7 linked regions of the Homo sapiens genome follow. The protein of the gene in region 1 interacts with the protein of each later gene in a pairwise test. Each region holds a gene or a part of one and is shown in the gene's direction. Other genes may lie near its edges.

What was found.
Region 2: the proteins of SKP1 (region 1) and MTUS1 interact in binary tests that used the Homo sapiens proteins (3 or more experiments, as listed by UniProt).
Region 3: the proteins of SKP1 (region 1) and FBXW9 interact in binary tests that used the Homo sapiens proteins (3 or more experiments, as listed by UniProt).
Region 4: the proteins of SKP1 (region 1) and FBXO33 interact in binary tests that used the Homo sapiens proteins (3 or more experiments, as listed by UniProt).
Region 5: the proteins of SKP1 (region 1) and FBXL22 interact in binary tests that used the Homo sapiens proteins (3 or more experiments, as listed by UniProt).
Region 6: the proteins of SKP1 (region 1) and FBXO21 interact in binary tests that used the Homo sapiens proteins (3 or more experiments, as listed by UniProt).
Region 7: the proteins of SKP1 (region 1) and KCTD9 interact in binary tests that used the Homo sapiens proteins (3 or more experiments, as listed by UniProt).

Annotation. Positions count from the first base shown.
Region 1 is NC_000005.10:134,163,451-134,166,950, reverse strand, and holds part of SKP1 (S-phase kinase-associated protein 1), read left to right. Parts: intron 1-3,500. UniProt on the Homo sapiens protein: Essential component of the SCF (SKP1-CUL1-F-box protein) ubiquitin ligase complex, which mediates the ubiquitination of proteins involved in cell cycle progression, signal transduction and transcription.
Region 2 is NC_000008.11:17,791,095-17,794,594, reverse strand, and holds part of MTUS1 (microtubule-associated tumor suppressor 1), read left to right. Parts: intron 1-3,500. UniProt on the Homo sapiens protein: Cooperates with AGTR2 to inhibit ERK2 activation and cell proliferation. May be required for AGTR2 cell surface expression. Together with PTPN6, induces UBE2V2 expression upon angiotensin-II stimulation.
Region 3 is NC_000019.10:12,693,832-12,698,106, reverse strand, and holds the start of FBXW9 (F-box/WD repeat-containing protein 9), read left to right. Parts: upstream 1-1,475; 5' UTR 1,476-1,525; coding exon 1,526-1,934; intron 1,935-3,168; coding exon 3,169-3,308; intron 3,309-3,384; coding exon 3,385-3,513; intron 3,514-4,275. UniProt on the Homo sapiens protein: Substrate-recognition component of the SCF (SKP1-CUL1-F-box protein)-type E3 ubiquitin ligase complex.
Region 4 is NC_000014.9:39,401,434-39,404,933, reverse strand, and holds part of FBXO33 (F-box only protein 33), read left to right. Parts: intron 1-2,422; coding exon 2,423-2,533; intron 2,534-3,072; coding exon 3,073-3,500. UniProt on the Homo sapiens protein: Substrate recognition component of a SCF (SKP1-CUL1-F-box protein) E3 ubiquitin-protein ligase complex which mediates the ubiquitination and subsequent proteasomal degradation of target proteins. Probably recognizes and binds to phosphorylated target proteins.
Region 5 is NC_000015.10:63,596,044-63,600,186, forward strand, and holds the start of FBXL22 (F-box and leucine-rich protein 22), read left to right. Parts: upstream 1-1,343; 5' UTR 1,344-1,349; coding exon 1,350-1,702; intron 1,703-3,110; coding exon of another isoform or gene 3,111-3,150; exon of another isoform or gene 3,151-4,143. UniProt on the Homo sapiens protein: Substrate-recognition component of the SCF (SKP1-CUL1-F-box protein)-type E3 ubiquitin ligase complex. Promotes ubiquitination of sarcomeric proteins alpha-actinin-2 (ACTN2) and filamin-C (FLNC).
Region 6 is NC_000012.12:117,176,971-117,180,470, reverse strand, and holds part of FBXO21 (F-box only protein 21), read left to right. Parts: intron 1-2,829; coding exon 2,830-2,951; intron 2,952-3,500. UniProt on the Homo sapiens protein: Substrate-recognition component of the SCF (SKP1-CUL1-F-box protein)-type E3 ubiquitin ligase complex.
Region 7 is NC_000008.11:25,444,934-25,448,433, reverse strand, and holds part of KCTD9 (BTB/POZ domain-containing protein KCTD9), read left to right. Parts: intron 1-2,183; coding exon 2,184-2,305; intron 2,306-3,500. UniProt on the Homo sapiens protein: Substrate-specific adapter of a BCR (BTB-CUL3-RBX1) E3 ubiquitin-protein ligase complex, which mediates the ubiquitination of target proteins, leading to their degradation by the proteasome.

The DNA of each region.
Region 1 (3,500 bases):
ATTTATTGGGCATCTGTACTGTGTCTACCTATGCAAACACTTCCCTAGGAAGGATGATCTACATGTAGAATATCTGGATCGCAGGTTGGCTTATATACCTAAATTTTGATAGATACTGTTAAATAGTCTTCTGTAAAGATACCACTTCTAGAGCATGGTGGAATTGAATCGTGACTGTCTTTCTTAGATTTATAATTTTGAAACGGCTAAAGTCAAAGGAATATGTAACACTTTGTTCCCATTTCTGTCCTTATCTATTCCAGTCCCCTTTCAGGTAGCAATTTATCCTTTCAGTATTTTGTAATACAGGTATTAACAAGTAAGTATATTTTTTTCCCACATTCTTTTTTTTTTTTTTTTTTTTTTTTTTGAGACCAGAGTCTTGCTCTGTCGCCAGGTTGGAGGGTAGTGGTATGATCTCGGCTCACTGCAACCTCTGCCTCCTGGGTTCAGGTGATTCTCCTGCCTCAGCCTCCTGAGTAGCTGGGACTACAGGCACACGCCACCATGCCCAGCTAATTTTTGTATTTTTAGTAGAGACAGGGTTTCACCATGTTGGCCAGGATGGTTTTGATCTCTTGACCTCATGATCTGCCCACCTCAGCCTCGCAAAGTGCTGGGATCACAGGTGTGAGCCACCGCGCCCAGCATTCTCCCCCATTCTTAAGGTAGCAAACTATACATTTCTATGTTTTTTTTTTTCCATATAACAAAATGAAAGGTGATATGTCTATGTTAGTTAATATATAGCATCTTTTTTTTTTTTGAGATGGAGCCTCGCCCTGTTGCCCAGGCTGGAGTGCAGTGGTGTGATCTCAGCTCACTGCAGCCTCTGCCTTCCGGGTTCAAGTAATTTTCCCTGCCTCAGCCTCCCGAATAGCTAGGATTACAGATGCCCACCACCACACTGGCTAATTTTTATATTAGACAGGTTTTCACCATGTTGGCCAGGCTGGTCTCCAACTCCTGACCTCAGACGATCTCCCTGCCTTGGCCTCCCAAAGTGCTGGGATTACAGGTGGAGCCACCATGCCTGGCTAACCTGAATTTTTTTGTGTTTGTTTGTTTTTTTGATCTCACTCTGTTGCCCAGGCTGGAGAGCAGTGGCACAATCTCGGCTCACTGCAGCCTCCACTTTCCAGGTTCAAGCAATTCTCCTGCCTCAGCCTCCCAAGTAGCTGGGATTACAGGCACTCGCCACCACGCCTGGCTAATTTTTGTATTTTTTAGTAGAGATGGGGTTTCACCATGTTGGTCAGGCTGGTCTTGAATTCCTGACCTTGTGATCTGCCCACCTTGGCCTCCCAAAGTGCTGGGATTACAGGCATGAGCCACCGAGCCTGGCATTTTTTTTTTTTTTTTTTTGAGACAGACACTCTGTCGCCCAGGCTGGAGTGCAGTGGCACGATCTCAGCTCACTGCAACCTCTGCCTCTTGGGTTCAAGTGATTCTCCCGCCTCATCCTCTCGAGTAGCTGGGATTACAGACACCCGCTACCATGCCCAGCTAATTTTTTTATTTTTGTAGAGATGAGGGTTTCACCATGTTGGCCAGGCTGGTCTTGAACTCCTCACCTCAGGCGATCTGCCTGCTTTGGCCTCCCAAAGTGTGAATGTTTTTACATGTGTTACTGGCCATTTACATTTTCTGCATTGTCTGTTTTCATTTCTCTGTTTTCCTAATGGTCTTAGAAAAATAGTGATAAAATATACATAACATTGATCATTTTCACTTTTTGAACGTGCACCATTCAGTGACATTAATTACATTCACAGTGTTGTGCAGCTATCACCACTAAGCATTTTCAGAACTTTATCATCCCACACTGAAACTCTGTACCCATTAAACTGTAACTTCCAATTTCGGTACACCCTCCCCCCTCAAAAAAAAAATTGGTACACCCTCCCCCCTCAAAAAAAAAAATTACGCTAGGTAAACACTATTCTACTTTCTGTATCTGAATTTAGCTATCCTGGATACATAATATATGGAATCATACAATATTAGTCCTTTTGTATCTGGCTTATTTCACTTAGCATAATGTTTTCAAGGTTCATCCATGTTGTTGTCTAATGAGCTTAAAAAATTGTGGTAAAATACACATAACAAAATTTACCACCTTAACCATTTTTAAGTGACAATTCAGTGGTATTATCTAATAGGCTTTTTATAAGAACTCTTTAAAAGTTTCTACCAGTTTGCTTGTCTTACGTTAATTCATGTTACGATTTAGAGGCTTTATTTTATCTAGTTAGATCTCATTCTTTATGACTTCTGAATATGTCTTGCAATTAACGTATTCTATTTTATACTAATGAAAAATGTTTCTAAAAGGATCTTTGCTTGTAGTCGAATGCCTGGTACATTCAAATGCCATCCAAAAGCTGGGGGTATAGCAGTGAACCAAAGAGACAAAATCTCTGCCCTTATGGAGTTTATGGTCTGAAGGGGTGGGGAATATGCAACATTAGAAATACATCAAATGGAAAAACTATGGAGAATAAAGAAGGGAATGGGGAATTTAAAGGGGTGAGTAGGTGAACAGTTAGCTGTTTTTAAAATAAAGATGGTCAGGAGATGTCTTACTGAGAAGATAATCTTTTTTTTTTTTTTTTTTTTTTTTTTTTTCTTGAGATGGAGTTTTGCTCTTGTTGCCCAGGCTGGAGTACAGTGGCACAACTTTGGCTCACTGCAGCCTCTGCCTCCGGGCTTTAAGCAGTTCTCCTGCTTCAGCCTCAGTAGCTGGGATTACAGGCGCGCGCCACCACGCCCGGCTAATTTTTTGTATTTTGAGTAGAGATGGGGTTTCACCATGTTGGCCAGGCTGGTCTCGAACTCCGGACCTCAGGTGATCCGCCTGCCTCAGTCTCTCAAAGTGCTGGGATTACAGGCTTGAGTCACCATCCCTGGCCGAAGATAATCTTTTAAACAAAGACGTGAATATTTGGGGGAAAAGAATTCTGGGATTTGGGAGCAAGTACAGTGACCTTAAGACAAGAGCATGCCCTGCCTTTTTAGGAAAGGCAAGGAGTTTAGTGGAAGCTAGAGCAAGAAGTGAGTAGATAAGGTCAGAGTTAAAGGGTTGGGTGATGTAGGGCCACTTCTGAGAATGAGAAGTGCTTGGTTTTTGGGGTTTTTTTGTTTGTTTGGTTTGTTTGTTTGAGATAGGGCCTCACTGTGTTGCCTGGGCTGGAGTGCAGTGGTGCAGTCATGGGTCACTGCACCTTCTACCTCCCGGGTTCAGGTGATCTTCTCACCTCAGCCTCCCGAGTAGCTGGGAGTACAAGCACATGCCACCACACTTGGCAAATTTTTGTATTTTTTGTAGAGATGGAGTTTCACCATGTTGCCGAGGCTAGTCCGGAACTCCTGGGCTCAAGCGATCTGTCTCCTTTGGCCTCCCAGAGTGCTGGGATTATAGGTGTGGGCCACCACACCCAGCCGAGAAGTTTTTTTTTTTTTTAAGCCTGTTTGTATTGAATATATATCATATTTTGAAG
Region 2 (3,500 bases), on another chromosome or scaffold:
GCTGGTGGGTCAGGATAGGGTAGAAGGATATTGGAGAATGAGAAATGGATTTAAAAGGGCTGAGCCATGCCAAGACCTAGCTACCAAGAAAAATTCACGTGTTGTATTAGATCCCCAATCTAGGCCCCACATACAGAACCAAGTCATTTATACGTAGTGTATAGTTAGGCTTATATTTCATGTAAAATGATAAATAAAAAGCATGAGTAAAAATCCTTGCTGTTAGAATATTATGTTTGATTTTTTTTTCTTTTATCTTTTTTTTTGAGACAGAGTTTTGCTCTTGTTGCCCAGGCTGGAGTGCAGTGGCGTGATCTTGGCTCACTGCAGTGTCCGCCTCCTGGGTTCAAGCGATTCTCCTGCCTCAGCTTTCTGAGTAGCTGGGATTACAGGCATGCACCACCACGCCCGTCTTCATTTTTTATTTTTAGTAGAGACAGGGTTTCACCATGTTGATCAGGCTGGTCTCGAACTCCTGACCTCAGGTGATCCACCGGCCTTGGCCTCCCAAAGTGCTGGGACTACAGACGTGAGCCACTGTGCCCGGCCTGTGTTTGGTTTTCCTCAGCCTCAGCCATTTTTGAGCACTTTCTATGGGCCAAACACTGAGGTAGAAGAGAAAAAAAAGAATTTGACCTCTTTTCTTGGAGGAGTCAGAGAAACCCCAATCATTGTGAAAAGTGCAGTTTTGGAGATGTTAGTAAGTGTTTGTGTTGTTCGAAATATTCTCCCAGGTTGTTAACGTTGGGCTTTGCATTAAAAATTCCACCTGCTGACTTGACCAAAGTTTGGTCACGTAGGTTGTATTGACATTCTTGGTTATATAAAGCATCCTTGTCATTAATCATGCTTACCCTTTTCCTTCTCACCAAAAGGATTAAGAAGGAAAATACTTAGCACTGTACTCTTTGGCGTCTCTTAATTTCTCTCAATGAGAATCTTTAGTTACCTTTTCCAGTATATTTTTGCTACATCTTGTAAGCTCCTTAAGGATAGGGTCTAAATGTTCGGATGCTGGGTACATTTTTACTTTTATAATTATTTCTCCCAGATGTGGTCTGGAATAAATCATCTAGAGCTCTGATGGCATGGGAATTTGAAATTCTTTTGTCAGATAGTCACAGCTACTGGAAGGTCTTTTAAACCACAGGTATTAATTTCCTTATTGCTTTTCTGTGCCTTGCTCCTTGCCCTCTCCTCTTGCCCTCACCCCCTCATCCATTGTTTCATACTCAGCAAGCAGAGGGAAGGTAGTTTACCCTCAGTCTTGTGTCCGACTGAACGGCCATGGCTTTGGGAGCAGAGCATCAGAGCTGGAAGGTGCCAAGTTTCCTGATGCTTCTGAGTTACTGTTTTATTATGAAGAGTCAGTTTGAGAACATCTGGCATACCCATGTGCAAATACATGTACGTAATTGATTCCACTCATGATTTATGACATTCCCTATTCGTGCAGACAATCGCAAGTTGACAATTTCTTTTGACTAGGGACTTGGGCTGTTTTCTGTTTAGAGAAAAATGTATGTACAACTTAGGAATTCAGATAACTTTGCAGTCTAGGATTCTTTTTTCTCATTACATCTAATAAGATTTGTGTTTCAGAGTAGTTTTGCATTTATGTAAAACTTTTCAATAGTTCTCTAGACTTGCTGGTTATTGAACTTGATTTAATGCTGTGAAGAAGTATTTTCTGTTTAAGGGTTAAAAAATTGTTTTGCTTTCAGATTTTTTTTGAGACAGAGTCTTGCTGTGTCACAGGCTGGAGGACAGTGGTGTGATCTCGGCTCACTGCAACCTCCGCCTCCCAGGTTTAAGTGATTCTCATGCCATAGCCTTCTGAGTACCTGGCACTACAGGTATGCGCCACCGCGCCTGGATAATTTTTGTATTTTTGGTAGAGACAGAATTTCCCCATGTTGGCCAGGCTGGTGGCAATCTCCTGGCCTCAGGCGATCTGTCCACCTTGTCCTTCCAAAGTGCTGGGATTACAGGCGTAAGCCACCATGCCCAGCCTTCTGATGTTGCTTTATAGTGTTTTTGATGGCACCTCTGCAAAGGGATTTACTTACTCTTAATTTGAATTTAAAAGAGTAGGGTCAGTTAATGAAAAGGGAGGTAAGAAAAATCCTACATTTCTGTTTCTATGAGAAAACCTAAACCATTTTATATTGCAGATAAGACTATTTTGTTGGAAAGTTCTGGTTACAGCTTATTAGGCTGAACATTTAAAAATGTATAACCTTGTAGATATATAATCAAATGAAAACTATTTTCTCCTTATATGGTGTGAGTTGTTTTGATCTTGAATGATTAGCCCTCCATCCTTCAGTGCTAGGGACTGCTTTTCTTCTCTCCTTCCTCCTGTTTTTATTGAATTTCAAATAATAAATAGAGGTATTTCACCATTTAGCTAGATTTTGCCCACCATGACATCCATTATGAAACCCTGGGGACATACTTTATTATAGAATTGGAAAAATGTAATGGGTATCCAGGACATTTGGTGCAGTAATGTCATAGAGAGTGCACAGACTTAACAGGCAAAATTGGGTTCATGTCTGAGATTTTCCTATTAGCCATGTGACCTTGAGTGAAATTTCATTACCTTTGCTCCCCAGTTGGCTCATCAGGACGCTGGAAGGTGGGGGTAGTACCTTGTCTCCTGGGGTTATTCTGACACAGGTGCCAGGTATATAGAAAATGATCAATGGGTGCTAATAACCTTCCTTAGTCTCTAGTTTTAAATTAAATCTTCTGATTCATAGATAGGTGTTTCATTTAATTTCTGCTGCTTAGCCTTGGAGGTGTTGCTTGGATCTGCTGGTGCTGTCGGTTGGGAGTTAAATTCTAGGCTCAGGAGGCTGATAACTTTCCCTCTTCCTTAGGAGGAATTGATTTGTAGCAAACATTGGAGATTGTTTATTCTCAGACTCCAGCTTTGTCACCTCTTGTTTTTCTTGAAAGTTTAAGTCTAGTGAGCTGCTGATACTCCATTTGAACTGTGTTTTCAAAAAATCAATGTAGATACTTTTATCTTTGGTAAAGTCTGTAAATTATGTTGCCTCTTTGCTATCAGTCAGCACATTCGAAAGACAATTGAGTCATCACTTTGAACTAATCTTGGACTTGTGGATATTACAGTACTAAGGTTCCCTGTTCTGATTTTTCACCTGTAACATAGTCCAGAATATTTGTATTTTAGAGTTTCAATTGTAAAATGTTACTATTAATATACAGTATTTAAATATAAAAGCAATTTTGTATTTTCATCTTTTAAGCATAGTGAAATATTAATTCCCTATGTTTGTGGCAAGCACATTGTAAATATGATATTAAGAACTGATCACATCAGCCCTGCGGTTGGGCAGAGCAGGTCATGAGTGCTTTCTTTTATACTGAAGGAGACTGGGGACCAGAACTATTTGGATAAATGTTTTGTCTTATGGCGAGTAAGTTATGGAACTGGGACTGGACTTGTACCGGTCCATTTCCCACACCCA
Region 3 (4,275 bases), on another chromosome or scaffold:
CCCAAGCTGGAGTGCAATGATGCCATCTCGGCTCACTGCAACCTCCGCCTCCCAGGCTCAAGTGATTCTCCTGCCTCAGCCTCTGAGCAGCTGAGATTACAGGTGCCTGCCACCACACCCGGCCAATTCTTTGTATTTTTAGTAGGAAGGGGTTTCACCTTGTTGGCCAGGCTGGTCTTGAACTCCTGACCTCAAGTGATTAACCCACCTTGCCTCTCGAAGTGGTGGGATTACAGGCCTGAGCCACCGCACCCGGCCAACATGCTGTTTTAGTAAGTGTGATGTTAGGCCGGGCGCAGTGGCTCACGCCTGTCATCCCATCACTTCGGGAGGCTGAGGCGGGCGGATCACGAGGTCAGGAGTTTGAGACCAGCCTGGCCAACATAGTGCGACCCCGTCTCTACTGAAAAATACAAAAATTAGCCAGGAGTGGTGGCGCGTGCCTGTATTCCCAGCTACTCTAGAGGCTGAGGCAGGAGAATCGCTTGAACCCGGGAGGCGGAGGTTGCAGCCAGCCGAGATCGCGCCACTGCACACCAGCCTGGGTGACAGAGTGAGACTCCGTCTCAGAAAAAAGAAAAAGGTAGCTTTCCACCAGGCGCGATGGTTCACGCCTGTAATCCTGGTACTTTGGGAGACCAAGTTGGGGGCGGATGGCTTGAGCTCAGGAGTTCCAGACCAGCCTGGACAACGTAGTGAAACCCTGTCTTTACAAAAGAATACAAAAATTAGCCGGGTGTGGTGGTGCGCGCCTGTAGTCCCAGCTACCTGGGGGGCCGAGGTGGAGGATCACTTGAGTCCAGAAAGCGGAGGTTGCAATGAGCCAAGCACTCCGCTTGGAGGACTGAACTGCTGTCCTCCAAGGTTGGGTTGGGGAATGGGGTCTGGAGAGGTAGTTCTGAGGCCCCAGTTCCTTTCTCAAAAAAAAAAAAAAAAAAAAAAAAAGTCACTTAACTGATGCCTCTGCAGTGTAACTGCATATTTCTGGCTCTGGGAAAAGAGGCAAGAGTTCCAATCTCTACTCCTTGAACTCGGAAAGGGGCCTTTGGGTTTCTAAGCTCAGTGTCACATATAACAGATGCCTTCGTTAAAGCAGTGTTTATTTTATGTCTAATTTAAAGAGACAGGGTCTCACTATGTTGCGCAGGTTGGAGTACAGTGGCACAACCATGGCTCACTGCAGTCTCGAACTCCTGGACTCAAGGGATCCTACCCCTTCACCTTCCTGAGTATCTGGAACTACAGGCGCGCGCCACCCCGCCTGGCTTGAGTTTCGTTTTTAGCTAGAGTTGGCTGGCTCTCGGTATCGGCTAGTTTAAAAAGCGCAGAAACAGGAACCTGCATTTTCCAGCCTAAGGCCGACGCAGTTGCAAGAGACCCTGTAAGCGGGGCGATGTTCTGTATTAAGCCAGTGTCTGACTTCGTCGCTTCCGGTGGGCGCATAAACGTCATCAGACAGCGCCGGAAGTGCCCTCGTGCTGCCTAGGAGACAAGACGCGAGGCCGGCAGCGCCCACCCGGTCGCAATGGAGCTTCCCCTAGGGCGGTGCGATGATTCCCGCACCTGGGACGATGACTCGGACCCAGAGTCAGAGACAGACCCAGACGCGCAGGCCAAGGCCTACGTGGCCCGCGTTCTCAGTCCGCCAAAATCCGGGCTGGCGTTCTCGCGCCCCTCGCAGCTATCCACACCCGCCGCGTCCCCGAGCGCTTCGGAGCCTCGGGCCGCGTCCAGGGTTTCGGCCGTAAGTGAGCCGGGCCTTCTGAGCCTTCCCCCGGAGCTGCTGCTCGAGATCTGCTCCTACCTGGACGCCCGCCTCGTGCTCCACGTCCTGTCGCGGGTGTGCCACGCGCTCCGCGACCTCGTGTCTGACCATGTCACCTGGAGGCTACGCGCGCTACGCCGCGTACGCGCGCCCTACCCAGTGGTGGAAGGTGCGCGGGGCCGGGGGCCGGGGACCGGGGGCCGGGGGCGCCCGCCCAGGTCAGGCTTGGGGCGGGGAAGAGGTACATGGGGTGTTCCGGATGCAGCCTCTGGTGCAGGCTTCGTGGCTGTCCTGGCTCAGGCTGGAGGCTAAGGTAGTTACTGGTGGTGCCGAAGCCCCTGAGGACCTCTGGGTGGACCACGAGGCAGTCAGGCACTTGGGGTCCTGAGGCTGTGAAACCCTAACATGGGGCTGTGGTTCCTGGACGACTCAGGATCCAAATATCCTCAGTCTTGGGGTCTTGTGGTACTAAGCCACTGACCCCTGATTGGGGATTGACACAGGGACTTGAAGTCTTAGGCTCTGGAGTTTATGCTGGGGCTCAAAGTGAGCCCAAGGATCCTCAGGTTCTGAGTCCAGCTTAGAAGCTGAGACAGCACCTGTTGATGTCAAAACTCCTGAGCCCTAGAGCCTTGACCCAGTTAGGGGTGAGACAGTGGCTCTTGGCCCTGAGTTGATTGGTTCCTGAGGGAAGACAGCTTGGGACCTTTGAATCGATATTGTTGATCCTGATACAGCTGGATCCTCAGGCCCTTAAGCCAAGATGTATTACAGCTTGGGTGTTTGATACCCTTAACCTGGAAGCTTTGATTCTGCTTAGAGAGGAATCAGGATCACTCCGGGATCAGTGATTCTCAAGGTGTTGCCATCCAACCCCCAGGTCAGACTCTCCCAAACAGCTTAATAAACATAGATGCTTGGACCCCGTCCATATCACAGAATCTGCATCTGGGGCTTGCATTCTGCATCTTGACAAGGCTCCCTGGTTTCCAGATACTGTTTGAGAAACAGCCCCCTTGGTCTGGTTCAGATGGCTGAGGCAGGAAGGGTTAGTCATGAGGTCCCAGCTTCTATGCTGAGCCTGAGGTCAGACCTCAACATCCTGAGACTGCTCTGCCCTGAGTTTGGGTTGGGGGATGGCGCCTGGAGAGGTAGTTCTGAGACCCCAGTTCCCAATTTCTGGAAATTGGAGTGAGTAGTCCTAGACCTGCCTGGGAAATGGGCAGGCAGGTGGTCCCAAGACCACAGCCTGGGTCGGCTTGGGGTGGGAGTAGGGATCTCCATGGGGTTCTGTCCAAGTCTGGTGTAGTGTGGGCTCCCTGGAAGCCAGGGTTGGGCTTGGCCAGCTGGCATGGGTGCTAGGGTCCCTGCCCACTGGGCACCCTACTCGTGGTAACCCACAGAGAAGAACTTTGACTGGCCGGCAGCCTGCATTGCGCTGGAGCAGCACCTGTCCCGCTGGGCAGAGGATGGGCGCTGGGTCGAATACTTCTGCCTGGCCGAAGGCCACGTGGCTTCCGTTGACTCAGTGCTGCTGCTCCAGGTGAGACGGGGTCTGTGGGGGGCCAGGCAGGGTGGGCCAGGGTGGCCCTGACAACATCACCTTGCTCCCTTTCCAGGGTGGGTCACTCTGTCTGTCGGGCTCCCGAGATCGCAACGTCAACTTGTGGGACCTGCGGCAGCTGGGGACGGAGTCCAACCAGGTTCTGATCAAGACCTTAGGCACTAAGCGAAATAGTACCCATGAGGTGAGGAGTCAGGTGGGGATAGGAGGTATGAGGCCTGAGTAGGGCATCTTGGTTAAGGCCCCAGGTTTTGGTACAGGACCGCATAGATTTGAATCTGACTTTTCTAACCTTGGTGTGACTTTGAGTGAGATGTGTGACTTCTCTGTGCCTCAGTTTCTACTTCTGTCCAGTGGGTGATTAGGATGAGGATGAAGGAGATGCATTATGCATTAATGTGGACATGCATTAAGCTCAGGCTTTTTTTTTTTTTTTTTTTGAGACGGAGTCTCGTTCTGTCACCCAGGCTGGAGTGTGGCATGATCTCAGCTCACTGCAACCTCTGCTTCCCGGGTTCAAGCGGTTCTCCTGCCTCAGCCTCCTGAGTAGCTGGGACTACAGGTGCATGCCACCACACCTGTCTAATTTTTTTTTTTTTTTTTTGAGATGGAGTCTCACTCTGTTGCTAGGCTGGAGTGTAGTGATGCAATCTCGGCTCACTGCAACCTCTGCCTCCCAGGTTTAAGCAATTCTCCTGCCTCAGCCTCCTGAGTAGCTAGGACCACCATGCCCAGCTAATTTTTTTATTTTTGGTAGAGACAGGGTTTCACCATGTTGGTCAGGATGGTCTCGATCTCCAGACCTCGTGGTCTGCCCGCCTCAGCCTCCCAAAGTGCTGGGATTACAGGCATGAGTCACCTGGCCTTTATTTATTTATATTTTTATTGAGACAGAGTCTCCCTCTGTCACCCAGGCTGGAATGCAATGGCATGATCTCGGCCCACT
Region 4 (3,500 bases), on another chromosome or scaffold:
CTCGTGATCCACCCACCTCAGCCTCCCAAAGTGCTGGGATTACAGGTGTGAGCCACCGCGCCCAGCCTATTCTTTTCTTAAAATGATTGTTGAGCAGCTTACAAAATTTTTTCTTTGACATAGAACCCTGTCTACCTCTACGTCATCATTTCATGTTCACTTACTCTCTGTACTCCAGTCACTCTGGATTCTTTTCAGCTCGCTTTGATCTCTTCAAGTGCTGCAAATGCTTTTCCTTTTCCCTATAATGCTGTCTCCCTACCTTACTTCTCCTGGTTAACTTCCACTTATTCTTAAGATCCATTTAAAGCCGGGCACGGTGGCTCACGCCTGTAATCCCAGCACTTTGGGAGGCCAAGGCGGGTGGATCACGAGGTCAGGAGATCGACACCATCCTGGCTAACACGGTGAAACCCCATCTCTACTAAAAATACAAAAAATTAGCTGGGCATGGTGGCGGGCGCCTGTAGTCCCAGCTACTCGGGAGGCTGAGGCAGGAGAATGGCATGAACCCGGGAGGCGGAGCTTGCAGTGAACCGAGATCGTGCCACTGCACTCCAGCTTGGGCGACAGAGCGAGACTCCATCTCAAACAAACAAAAAAAAAGATCCATTTAAATCAATTTAGGGACGCCTGCTCTCCCTTACAGTGTCAAATATGCCCATGATATGTAGCACCATGTACTTGTCCTTCACAGCACTGAATCACTATTGTGTCTCTAGTATATAGCACAGTTCCTGGTACTTCGTAGGCCCTCAGGGAATTGTTGGTTAAATGAATAAACGAATTAATGATTATTCCTCAAGCTAAATTTTAGAATCATTGGGCTTTTCCGTGAAATTAAGGTGATTTACTTGAGAAAATGTGACATACCATCAAGAAATGGTGTTTTTCAGGCCAGACATGGTGGCTCATACTTGTAATCTCAGCACTTTGAGAGTCCAACAAATACAAAATATTTAAAATTATCCACATATGGTGGCACATGCCTGTGGTCCCAGCTACTCAGGAGGCTGAGCTGGAAGGATCACTTAAGCCCAGGAGGTTGAGGCTGCAGTGAGCCGTGATCATACCACTGCGCTCCAACCTGAACAACAGAGTGAGACACTGTGTCCAAAAAAAAAAAAAAAGAAATGGTATTTTTCATTTATTTAAATCTTGTATCACTGTTGTAGATGATACATTTTTTAATTGAAATTATCCCTAAGTTTTATGTTATAAATGAAATATCTAGTTCGTTATTATTGGACTTAGGAGTTTTCTCTTCATCCAGTTTTCTCCTATTTTATTTACAATTTTACTATCAGAAAACTATATGTTTTGTAGCTAAAATTATCTAAAACCAAAAGATTTTAACATAGTTTTCTAGTTTTCTTAGGTAGAGTCTGTCTCCCAGGCTGGAGTGCAGTGGCATGATCTTGGCTCACTGCAACCTCCGCCTCCCAGTTCAGCTGGGATTCCAGGCATGTACCACCACGCCCAGCCAATTTTTGTATTTTCATTAGAGACAAGGTCTTGCCATGTTGGCCAGGCTGGTCTCGAACTCCCGACCTCAAGCGATTCCCCCCGCCTTGGTCTCCCAAAGTGCCAGGACCACAGGTGTGAGCCACCGCACCTGGCCTTACATAGTTTTCTACTTCTGTTGTTCATAAGCTGTATGGTTTGATCATAAAACTGGAGAAGGTTCTCTTTAGATTTCAGTTAAGGAATATTTCTTAACTGAGTAGATATCTTCAGGGCAGTGACTTACCCTGGAGCATTTAACATGTTGACTAAATTAACTGGTTTGAGACATGTTTATATTGTAATTATCATCTCTATAAAATTTAGAGCTTACATAGTTTGTCATATATCATTGTGTCATTTATCCTTAAACCCTATAAGGTAGGTATTGTTATTACTGATGAAGAATTGAGTCTCACGCACATTAAGAGACTTTTCCATGGTCATTATAAATTTAGTTCCTGAACCAATCTTTATACCCTGGTCCTTGTTCTTTAAAGCTTATGCCACTTCTCCTGTATCATGTTGCTTTGTATGTATAAAGAAATCTGAACCCCATCTCTACTAAAAATACAAAAAAATTAGCCGGGCATGGTGGCGGGCGCCTGTAGTCCCAGCTAGTCGGGAGGCTGAGGCAGGAGAATGGTGTGAACCCGGGAGGCGGAGCCTGCAGTGAACCGGGATCGCGCTACTGCCCTCCAGCCTGGGTGACAGAGCAAGACTCCGTCTCAAAAAAAAAAAAAAAAAAAAAAATCTGAATATATGTATAAAGCAATCTGAAAGTACTTAACTGGATTCTAATTGAGTTATAAAATAGAAACCTTCCTAGAATATCCCCTTTGCATATTCTTATTTTTTATATTTATATTTTTTAAGTATAAATTATTTAGCAAATCATTTTAAATGATTGTTCTTGTAGGAACCTTCAGAAGTTTAGTCTTTTTGGAGACATAAGTGTTCTACAACAGCAAGGAAGTTTGTCAAATACATACCTCAGCAAGGTGGACCCTGATGGCAAAAAAATTAAACAGTAAGTTATATGGTTAATGGAAAGGAGGTTGTACTATTAATAATATGTTTTTCCTAAGAAATTATGAGATACAAACAGAAGAGTAATGATTTTTTTCCTAAAAGGAACATAGGTCCTGGAAATGTTTTAATGGTGAAATACAGTGATCAGCATCTGCCATTCCATCTCATAAATCTTTAAGAAAAATCAAGTAACTTAGTGGATAATTATTGCTATTTAAAATTATTCCTCTACTTGCCTTTGCTATAACATAAATTGTATGTTATCCTACTTTTCTACTAAACGGGTATAAGTGGTGCTTTTCTTGGATGAGGAACATATTTCTACGTGTTTAATAGATCTTTATGTTTAATATACCTTATTCATTATATTTTAATGTGAATTTTAATGGTATTTACTGTGGGTTGAATCGAAATTACCTAATGAGGAAAAATAGATCTCAAAATTGCATGCTTTTCATTGCCTATTTTCAAAAGTCAGTGTTAAAAGATTAGAACTAAATGTTAATGGGATCACTGTGGCATGTGTTTTCCTTATAGAATTCAGCAACTGTTTGAAGAAATCCTGAGTAATAGTAGGCAACTGAAATGGCTGTCCTGTGGGTTTATGCTGGAAATAGTAACCCCAACATCACTGTCATCTCTCTCTAATGCTGTTGCCAACACCATGGAGCACCTCAGTTTACTGGACAATAATATTCCTGGTAACAGCACTCTTATTACTGCAGTTGAACTGGAGCGATTTGTGAATCTGCACTCACTTGCCTTGGATTTTTGTGACTTTACAGCTGAGATGGCAAGAGTCTTAACTGATAGCAACCATGTGCCTTTGCAACGACTGTCTCTTCTGGTTCACAATGTTTCTGTAATGCACAAGTCTCTGGACAACATGCCAAATGATGAGCATTGGAAAGCCCTGTCACGAAAGAGCACCAGCTTTCGGGTCTATATAATGGCTTTTGATATCA
Region 5 (4,143 bases), on another chromosome or scaffold:
CCCTCTTATTCCAAATGGGAGAACAAACAGAAGTAACCACTGAGGTGGTGGTCCCTGGGCTGGCAGAGGAAAAACCATTCTCTTCTCACTATTGCCTAGGCAGAACGTGGCCTATACAGCTGCACCATATCAGCATCCCCCAAGCAAACCAAAAAACAACGACTGGGATTCAAAGCAGGAGAGTTAAGGTTGGGTCCTGGGTTTGGGAGTGAAGCAGCATGAGGAAACGGGTCTGCCATATCGTGAAGCCTCGGGTACTCAGGAAGGGGGAGCTTCACGGATAGTACCTCCAGGCACCTTGCCTAGAGTTGAGTCAGAGAGGGCAGGGGTGGCCCACTGGCTTCTCCAAGAGGGAACGGAGGGCACTCATAGAATGGATGGTGTGTGGTCAACTTAAAGGCAAAGATGGACTAAAATACTGAACTTAAAATTGTTTCAAGCAGTTTCACATTAAGAGCTACCTCATCCATCCTGACATTTTGGGAAGTACAGGTTATACATAGTACAAGGCCTTATCAGTGAGAAAATGTAAAGCCAAGTAAATTTAAATTTAAAACACAGAAAGTACTGCTTGACCAAAACTACAAAAACAACAACAACAACAACAAAGCACCAATAAAACATAAAACACAGACACACAACTTTGGAAAGCAGCTACTTCAGTAAAATTCTTTTATGAAACAACTCAGGGTAAAAATCTAGCTGTTGGGGAGGCCCAGGAAAATCCCCCTGCCTAGTGGCAGGCAGCAGGGCTTGAAGGCCAACCAGCCTAGCCTGGAGACAATTACTCTATGGCACAAAAATAACAGGAATGAGGCAGCAGCCATGGACTCTGCTCACAACTCACAACCGTCACCCTTAGCTCTCCACACGCAACAGGTTTCTTCCTAGTAAGGGTGGAGCAAAAGATTCACACTGATGTACTAGAAAATCAAAACAGTTAACATTTACAATTACACTCCTTCCCCCTAAGTACAGACTGCAAAGCCAGACAGAGCTGGCCTGGCCGCCACCACTGCCAATGAAAACGCCTTGGGAAAAGCCAAAAGTGCTCACTGCTAAACACCATTGTCAGCTAAAGGGAAAAAAAAAATCCCTTTTAAGGAAAGTAACTTCAATAGGCTCCTTTTCTGCCAGGACCTCCAATCCCTCTGAACATAAGCCGAACCACAGACTGCCGCACATGTGTCTGGGTCCTGGCTTTTCTTCCCTCACCCCTCCGCAGAGCTTCAGCACCAGTTGTTAGCCAAAAATAAACACCATTCCTCAACCATATATGTCCACCGGCCCAGAGTCGGGGAGGAGGAGAGGAGGCAGGTCAGCCGTCCCCCGGCTGCAGCTGCACTCACATGTGGCCACTGCTCACCATGCACATAACCCAGCTCAACCGGGAGTGCCTGCTGCACCTCTTCTCCTTCCTAGACAAGGACAGCAGGAAGAGCCTTGCCAGGACCTGCTCCCAGCTCCACGACGTGTTTGAGGACCCCGCACTCTGGTCCCTGCTGCACTTCCGTTCCCTCACTGAACTCCAGAAGGACAACTTCCTCCTGGGCCCGGCACTCCGCAGCCTCTCCATCTGCTGGCACTCCAGCCGCGTGCAGGTGTGCAGCATTGAGGACTGGCTCAAGAGTGCCTTCCAGAGAAGCATCTGCAGCCGGCACGAGAGCCTGGTCAATGATTTCCTCCTCCGGGTGTGCGACAGGTAGGCCACCTTGCCTCCTGAGCAGTGCTGGCCCCGCTAGCTCTGGCTTCCCTCTTGGGGGGCAGGGAAGAGCAAATTACGAGACCAAGATGGCTCCACCTTCGGGGCGCCTCAAACTAGGCCCAAGGCAGACATCCAGACCGCCCAAAGCAGGGTCCCCAGGAGACAATAAAATCATGAGGGAAACAATTGCTAATCCTCCTCTTAGCCTCACAGGTCCTGGGCTGCTTCATGCAAACACCAAGAAGTGGGGCCTCCGTACTGGTAGTCATTAAGTGCTGGGTGGGTCCAGCTGGGCCTGGATTTTCAAGGTCAGGCTCTGGGAAAAGGCTTCCAGATGCAGCAATCAGCTCACCCCTCCATTAGGCCTAGCAAGCAGCCCTCAAGGCCTGGGAAACTACGGAGGAAAGAGAGGGTGGGGAGCCAGAGGTGGAGAAGCCAGGGTGCTCAGGTCAGCTGAGCCAAACCAGACTCCAGGAGTAGATGAATTACTGATTTACACAGTATTCCTAAGGAGGGTGGCTTAGCCTAATTTTTCAAATTAGCAAACTGATGCTCCACGAGGTGGTATGATTTGCCCAGTCTAGGGTTGCCAGATTTTAGCAAATATATAGGCTGCCCAGTTAAATATGAATTTCAGATAAACAGTGAATAATATTTTAGTGTAAGTATGTCCCAAATACATCTTGTGTTTATCTGCTAACCCCCACCCCAGACACAGACATAGACACTGAACCACCAGGCCAGGCTCCCTCCATGGTCCCAGCCTCATGGGCAGAGCGGCCCAGGCAAGAACACAGAGCTATTCAACCAGCCTCTCACTGAGCTTCTGCCAGTCCCGTGCTGCCTTTGAGGAAAAACACCCCCTTGATCATATAACAAACTGGCCCTGGCTGTTCATGGAAAACTAGACTCAGCCAGTTTACTGCCACCCAAGTTCATAGCTGCTATTTGCTGGCAGCACGACAGGAGTGGAAGGAAACAGCGTAGTGACCCCACCTTTCTTTTGAGCTGGTAGGAAGAAAACAGAAGATGGACTTGGGGTTGGGCCCCGACTGGACAAGGCTATTTTGATGGGCTTAACAAGGCCCAGGAATTAGACTAGAGTGACATGGGTGGGGGTTGGGGGGAGGCGAATGGCACAACATGTCCTGAAGTTGTTCCATTCTTACTGTAAGAGAACCGAGCTTAATGCCCCAAACCTGCAAGGTGTGAAGTGGACCTCCCAGGCCACTGTACTGATCAAGCAAGGGGCCCTGCTGTCACATAAAGAGCAAAGGGCTTTGCTGTCAGCACTCTGCTGAGCCGCTCAGCTCGTCCAACCATGTGACCCCAGCTCAAATACTTCAAACTCTTGCAACCTCATTTCTTCTTCTATAAAATGTGCTAAATTTTTCTTATCCAACAGGGTAAGAGGATTAAATGACACAGTGGCACCTGGCACATAGTAGGTACTGATGAACGTCTACTGAATCTGGTTCTTCTGGCACTCAGCTCAGGTCGGGAGGAATGGCTGAGGATGGCTGGGCAGGGGGACAGTCCGCTCTTTGTTTTTTCCCTGTATCAGAATTATTCCAAAGATTCTTAGAAGAAAAGATCACCCAACACCTTTGAGGCTTAAACACCTAATCCTTATAACCACCTTGAAGGTAACAATTCCTCCCACTTGACAAATGAGGAAGTGACGCCCAGCAAGGTTCAGACATCTGTCCTGGGTCTGACAGCAAATAAGTCACCAGCCAGTCACCTGAGCTGCCGGAGCCAGTTTCTTCATGTACAAAACTGGGGGTGCAGAGGTTGACGGGGTGACTAATGAGGGCACACAAACCTGAAGGAGGCCCGGGCTCGGTGTGACACCTGGCTGCACCCAACATATTTAAGTTCCTTACTTCCCTCCCCTGGCACAAAGGAGCCGAGCTGGCACAGCCAGGGGCAGTCACGGAGCTGCGGGGGAGGCTGGCAGGGAAAGGGAAACGCTTCCCCAGCCCAGACTCTAGCTCCCTCTGGCTGCGGGGAGCCAAGGCCCCGGCCCATTAGTCGGTCCTTCTGGACTGGAAGCAGGCTGGTCCCGTTTGTTTCCAGGGAAAGCGGGTTAGGACTGCCTGTGGAAGGCCCCGTTGCAGGCTCCTCACAACCCCAGTGGTAGACATTATTCCCCCCACGCAGAGGAAATGAAGGCTCCGTGAGTGACTGACACGGCGATAAACCAAGTCTAACTTGGCTCAAGATCTTTTCTTTGCTGGGAGGGGCTGGTGAGGCTGCAGCAGAGGGTCCCCCAAGCTTTCTGGCCAAGCGACCTGGGTGGGTGTCCGTGACTGTACCTGCTCAGGGCTTGCCTCTAGCTGCCTCCGAACCCTACCCTTTTCCAGGCTGGTGGCCCAGGGGATGCAGGAACAGCTCTAGTCTACTAAGCTGAACCCGGACTCAATGCTAACGCGTGC
Region 6 (3,500 bases), on another chromosome or scaffold:
AAGATAGAAGAAGGTCAGAGACATATATTTTTGAATTAGAAGTGCCAGTGTGAACTCAAAAGGTATTTTATATTTAAATACATGTAGGTATATGTAAGTGCATGTGCATATGTACATGTACACACACGTGCACATCAACACTAGGCTTCCTACGTCTGTTTGCTGAAAAGATCTAGAAATAATAACCAACCTAGTGGAATTGATCTTCCCTGGTTTCCAGATTGTCATCTTGATACAACATTTTCCACAAAAGAAGCCAGGGTTTTTGGAGAAAGACTGATTGTATGTCCAATGCAAGGATTTTAAAAGATGAGCCTGGTGGTGCATCCTGGAAACCTAACCAGATAGTAAGAAAACTGACACTACTTTATGTCGGAAGTATTGAGGAACCAATATGAAGAGGCTTCCAGTGGCCAAAGATGTGACAGTTAGAGCATCAGTGTGGATAATAACAGGAATGGATTGAAATGCATCGAATATGCTTGTCTCTCTGAGTCCATAATACTAAAAAATTAATTGGTCACCTTTGAAGGATAAATAGAAGCCCATATCATTGTTTTGAAAAATTGTAAATAGAAGATATGAGCATTTATCCTGCCTTTTCCATGTACTGTATCATGGGGGATCAAATAATAGACGGGGAGGTTTTTCCTTATAGAAGTATCCCAGCTAATGAATTAAGAAGGGTTGATTGAATTTTAATATCACCACTTCGTAACCTCAAATGAATGAACAGATCAAGACATTGAGTAGCAGTGCTGCTGACATCACAAAAGAAACACCCAGGCATTATTGCCTCCTGATGGGAGAATGCACTACCTTCTATGAAATTATCTTGCTAAATTAATGGAATCTGTATCTCATGTAGCCTCTACATCCAATTTACAGGAGATCAGAAGACAGAAGAACATGTTAAACTACATCATGTGGGTACAGTCAGCAAATTTCAGACGATGGGAAACTGCAGGTCAAACAACCCAGGTTCTTCAACAAATAAAATGCAAGGGAAAAAAAAAAGATGGAGGAGGATCCTGTAGATTAAGAGATTTAGAAGGCATCAAAACAGACTCGCCTGTTTAGGGATGTATATTTCATGGTAATACTAAAGAGAAAAGCAAGAAAGTGATGACCATAGAGGTGTGGTTTGTGATTATTGTTGCGGGGGGCCCCGGAGGGCTTCTTGGCCGTTTGCAAAGTTTTCTTTCTTGGCAAGAGTGTTAGATCCAGGAATGTGCCTTGTAATGATTCATTAAGCTACTTGTTTGTTTCACACAATTTTCTAGATTGATATATTTTACAACTCAAAGGTTAAAAAGTAGATGAAACATAGATCATTCTGCAGATTTTCATTGACCTCTCTCAAGATTGGCAAGTTGTTTGTTTCTTCATGATGTCAGCCAGATAAGTTTCATCACTGTCTCTCTCCTGCTTCTTATAATCCCCATATGTATTTGGGATATGTGGTGAAGAATTTTATCCACTCAACAAGTGTTATGGAACATCTACTATGTGCCAGATGCTATTCTAGGCACTAGGGATACAGCAGTGAACAACACAAAAAAAATCCCTGCCTTCATGGGGCTTATACTGTAGTGGGCGAGATGGGCACTAAGAAATTGGTTACATTAGAAAATGAAACATGCTATAGAGAAATATAATCGGGGAAGAAGGCAGGGGAGTGGTGAGGGGGTACCATTTAAAATAATGTAGGGGGCCTTACTCAAGGGGACATTTGAGTTGAAACCTAGGAGAAGGTGAGAACAGACTGCAGTCTCTGGAGAGAATGTTCCAGGCAGAAGAACAGGGCACTAAGGTGAGCACCCGCCAGACAGTAAAGGAACAGCTGGAATGCTTGGGTGGCTGGACTGAGGGGGAGTGGCAGGAATTGGGGTCAGAGAGGTAATGGGGCGAGAGTTCAAGAGACCTTTTAAGTCCTCCTTAGGACTTGGGCTTTTTCTTGGAGCGAGGTGGGAAACCGCTGGAGACTTGGAGGCGAGGATTGGGTGGCGTGACCGTACGTGTTACTGCAGTGCTCTGGCTGCCGTATTGAGGATGGACTGTGGAGGGGCCAGGTCTGAAGCGGGAAGCTGAGGTAGGAGGATGTTGCTGCAACACAGGAATGCTGATGGTGGTGTGTGGGAGTAATTGGGAAGTGTGCACATTTTGGATGTAATTTGAAGATAGTACCGATAGCATTGGCTGACAGGTCTTAAGTATGGCTTATGAGAGAAAGCAAGGCATCCAGGATGACTCGCAGGTTTTATGCCTCACTAGAATGATGGAGATGCCTTGATCAGAGATGAGGGTGACTCTGGGAGGGGAAGAAAGATGAAAGTGCTCAGCTATCTGAGTGGGATGTGGAGTAGATGGATAGTAGTTGATACAAAGGTCTAGAGTTCAAGAGAGAACTCTGGTCTGGAAAATAGGAGTTTTCATAATATGTGAAACCGTGAGGAACTCACCATGGCAGTGAGTGCCCAGGCCCAAGTGGCCCAAGCAGGGGGACCAGCAAAAGGTTCTAGATGCCTCCCCATCTTCTGAACCTCCCCCAGCTCAATTCCTTTTTCAGGCTGCTCTTCCATTTCCTTTTATGAAAGATACAGGCAAGTAAGTCTGAAGCCAGGCAGATAACTGTTCCTCAGATTTCAGTACAACTAATTTAGTATTATATTACAATTCAAAGACTGCTATTTCCATTATAATTATTATAAGAGAATGAACCAATTATATTTTTCTTGTTAAGCAAACTACATGGTATGTTAGTGTAATGTGAAAAATAGATAACTGAAAGTTTTCAAATCTTAATTCTTACTGACTTTTTGTTTCCAGAAAAGCTTTGACCTGGAAATACTACGCAAAAAAAATTCTTTACTACCTGCGGCAACAGAAGATCTTAAATAATCTTAAGGCCTTTCTTCAGCAGCCAGATGACTATGAGTCGTATCTTGAAGGTGGGTCTTTTCCCATATATGTGGACAGTAGTATTTCTGTAGGTAACTGATTAGTTTTTTAAGACCAGCAGAGGGAATTGTGTTCCTTGTGGTAAAGAAGTGAAAAAGCAAATCATGTTGCGTGGGCTTCTGCAGGTTGGATTATAGGGCCTGATCAATGAGGTAGTTCAAACTATTAAATTTAGAGCTAAGATTTTATCAAAGTCCACTAAAGAAATAGTGTTTTTTAAAGATGCATCATTGGCTTAAAATGTGAGAGTGATACTTTAGCTAATGAAGTAAATTCCTGTTTTTCCGAGCTTTAATGATCATTTCCAAATCAGAAGTAAATGTATCCAATTTTGTCTCCCTGTGACCTTGAGTAAATCCCTTAACCTCTCAGGTTGGAGTTTATTGAGGACAGAATGTTCTTGGGCATCAGTGAGTCTGCTTGTCCGTAATGAAAGGTGAGAAGGAAGAAGTTGAGTGGACAGGCAAGATGAAGGGAGTGGAGAATCTTTTTGTTCTTATTAAGTTGAACAGGAACAAAGTGAGACTTCCATTTTTTTT
Region 7 (3,500 bases), on another chromosome or scaffold:
CATCATCCCAAACAGAAATTGTAACCATTAAGAAATAAGTCTCCATTCCCATCTATGCCTTGGTAACCTTTATTCTGCTTTCTTTCTCTATGAATTTGCCTGTGTTGGGTACTTTCATGTGAGTGGTATCATAGAATATTTATCCTTTTGTGACTGGCTTATTTCATTTAGCATACTGTCAAAAAGGTTCATCCATGTTGCAGCATGTGTCAGAATTCATGTCTCTTCTCTTCTCGCTTTGCTTTCCTTTCCTTTTTCTTTATTCTTTCCTTTCCTTTCCTTTTCTCTTTTCTTTTTCCTTTCCTTTTTTCTTTTCCGTCCCATCATGTCCAGGCTGGAGTGCAGTGGCGTGATCTTGGCTCACTGCAGCCTTGAATTGGCAGGCTCAAGTGATCCTCCCATCTCGGCCTCCCAAGCAGCTAAGACTACAGGCATGTGCCTCCATGCTTGGCTACTTTTTGTATTTTTTTGTAGAGACCATGTTTCACCATGTTGGCCAGGCAGGTCTCGAACTCCTGGGCTCAAGCGATCCACCTGCCACAGCCTCTCAAAGTGCTGGGATTACAGGCATGAGCCATTGTACCTGGCCTCATTGTTTCTTATTGCTGAATAATATTCCATTGTATATATATACCATATTTTATTTATGCAATTACCTGCTTATGGACACTTGGGTTGTACATTATTTTTTATAATGCACTTGGTTCCGCTTAAATTTTTCTTGCCTTCAACACTTTCCAAAATGCCCCAGCACTCTTCTGGCTTTCATCCTTCTGATCCAAGAGAAAAAAGTTAGAATCTGAGTACTCTGCTTTTGAAAAACTGCACACTCGTATGTTATCGAGCAGCTTTTTCCATGTCCTCCATTTACTGTATTTATTTAACTAGAAACTGTCCACTCTATTCCAGTCACTGGTGGACAGAGGACCAGCCTTAGTGCTCACTTCATATGGCATCTTGACATAATAAATCTTGGGACGTCCATGAGCTAGCTGACTGTGCTTCGTGTTTAGCTCTTCACCTACTTATTTTTCTTTTTTTAGCGGGGAGACAGAGCCTTGCTTGGTCATAAAGGCTGGAGTGCAGTGGTGCAACCTTGGCTCACTGCAACCTCTGCCTCCTGGGTTCAAGCAATTCTCATGCTTCAGCCTCTGGAGTAGCTACAGGCATACACCACCACACCTGGCTGATTTTTGTATTTTAGTAGGGATGGGGTTTCTCCATGTTGGTCTGGCTGGTCTCAAACTCCAGGCCTTAAGTGCTCTGCCCGTCTCAGCCTCACAAAGTGCTGGGATTACAGGCATGAACCACTGCGCCCGACCCTTACCTAGTTTTTATTCCTAACTTTCAGAGGTCATAACTGATAATGGTGCAACTGCACAACTCAGTCGCTGGGAACCCATAGTTACAGTTAGGACCAGGGCACAAAATTCACTTACATGTAGAAATTCTCAGCACCCTGCTTAGACAGTTGCATGTATCTTGCACATATATCAGACTGCTTGATTCACAGCAGGACACATCAATTCATTGTCACCCAGCTGTTTGCTCTGTTCTTAAATGTTAGATGCTAAAATCTGGCTTAGTTAGTGAAGAATTAAATAAATGAGGTGAGAAGTTATCTTTTCTGTGGTAGTTGATGTCGTTAATGATATAATAAACAGTACCAGCACACTCCTGTTCTAAGGATGAACCATTCAAATAAATAAATAATAAAAGGACAACATAATAGGGACTTACTAGGTCTCAGGCACTTTGCTAAGCTCTTATGCATGAACTCATTTCATAATACCTTCTGAAGTAGGTGCTACTATTTTCTTCATTTCTAGTTAAAGCAACAGAAGCATCAGTAGGTTGACTCAAGTTGACAGCTAGAAAATGTCAGACTCTAGATCGAAGTGTAGGTCTATCTTACTTCACAACTGGAGCGCTATTTAACACACCTTAGGATTGTAGATTGTTTTGGTCAGAGATGATTTCTTATGTTCTAGTTGAGGAGTCGGCAATATTAGGCACCAAGTGAATAAATGAGTCATGGAAGAAAAGGGGGCACTGTTAAGAACCTTTTGAAGTCTCCTTTTATATGATAATCTTTTTAGCACTGTTCTAGTGTGGTAGTTTATAACTTATGGGGGATAACATGTATTAAAGAAATTGTTCATATTATTCTGGTGTGTTTACAGGTGGTTGCTGTATATGGAACTTTATCTGATTTGCTTTCTGTGGCCAGCAGTAAACTCGGCATAAAAGCCACCAGTGTGTATAATGGGAAAGGTGGACTGATTGATGATATTGCTTTGATCAGGTAACCTTCACCTTTTTATAAGCTGTCAACAGTGTGCCTCAACTTCTTGGTGCTATGCTGTTTCCCTTAAGCAGTAATTTAATCACTGTTAAGAGTACAGGATTTTGGCAAGTGTTTACCTAGAATTTGCTCTTTGGAATTTAAATCATTTGGGCTTAAGGTGAATTGATCAGCTAGAAAACCCTTAGTACATTTCAGTATACTGATAGTCTTTCTGCATAGTTCATATATAGCTATGAGGAATTTCTTCTTTGTGGTACTAGAGAAGGATCTAGTAAGACGTGCAGTTTTTAACATTAAAAATCTAATTCATCTCTTCACTTTTATATGCGCCTGCTTGTTAATCATTTCCTAAGAATGCTTTGCATTTTATAATCATTACAAAGGCCAGATTTTGTAAAAACTTTATAAATATGATAGAATTCTAAGTAGTGATATCACCAGTGATCCACCATAATTATAGGCTTATGTTTGTACCTTAAATATCTCAGGCAGATTTATCTCTTTAAAACAAGTGTGTAGTTCACCTTACTTCATCTTCATGAGGTCAGAGAATTTTGGAGCAGGAAGATGCTTAACAAAGAAGATGGTAAAGGGAACACAAATTAAGTATTGACTATGCCACTTATGTTATCATTGCTTTGCCTGAGTTATACCATTTAATTGGCAAAACATGAGTTTTTTTTATCAGTGATGTGAAGATAATGATGCTTTAACCTATAATGATATACAAAGTCTCTGTATAAATCTAGATCAAAATGACCTTTCAGTATAATATACTGCTTTGCAGTTAATCAGTTCTAGACCCTTCATTTTACAGATGAGGAAACGAATTACCTGTGAAGCTGAGGACTCACTCAGGTCATACAGCTAGTTGGGTTTTGTTAATGAAAACAGATTTTTATACTAATCTGAAAAAGTAAACTGGCATGGTGAACAAGTAGGAAATACTATACACTACATTTTAAATCCAAATAAATTAGGATAACTTCTTAGTTTTTCAATATGTATCTCCCAGCTTCTTTCAGTTTCTAAGGAAAACTGAGTCACATTGTTGGATGATGATCCTCATCAACCTAACTTTCTTCTTAACAAACACGAACTCTGCTTCTTAGAAAAATTTAACGTGTCCTGTGATGTCCTATAGGAAATAAAAACGTCTACAATGGAAGGTTATAATTGAAGCCTTCTGAGC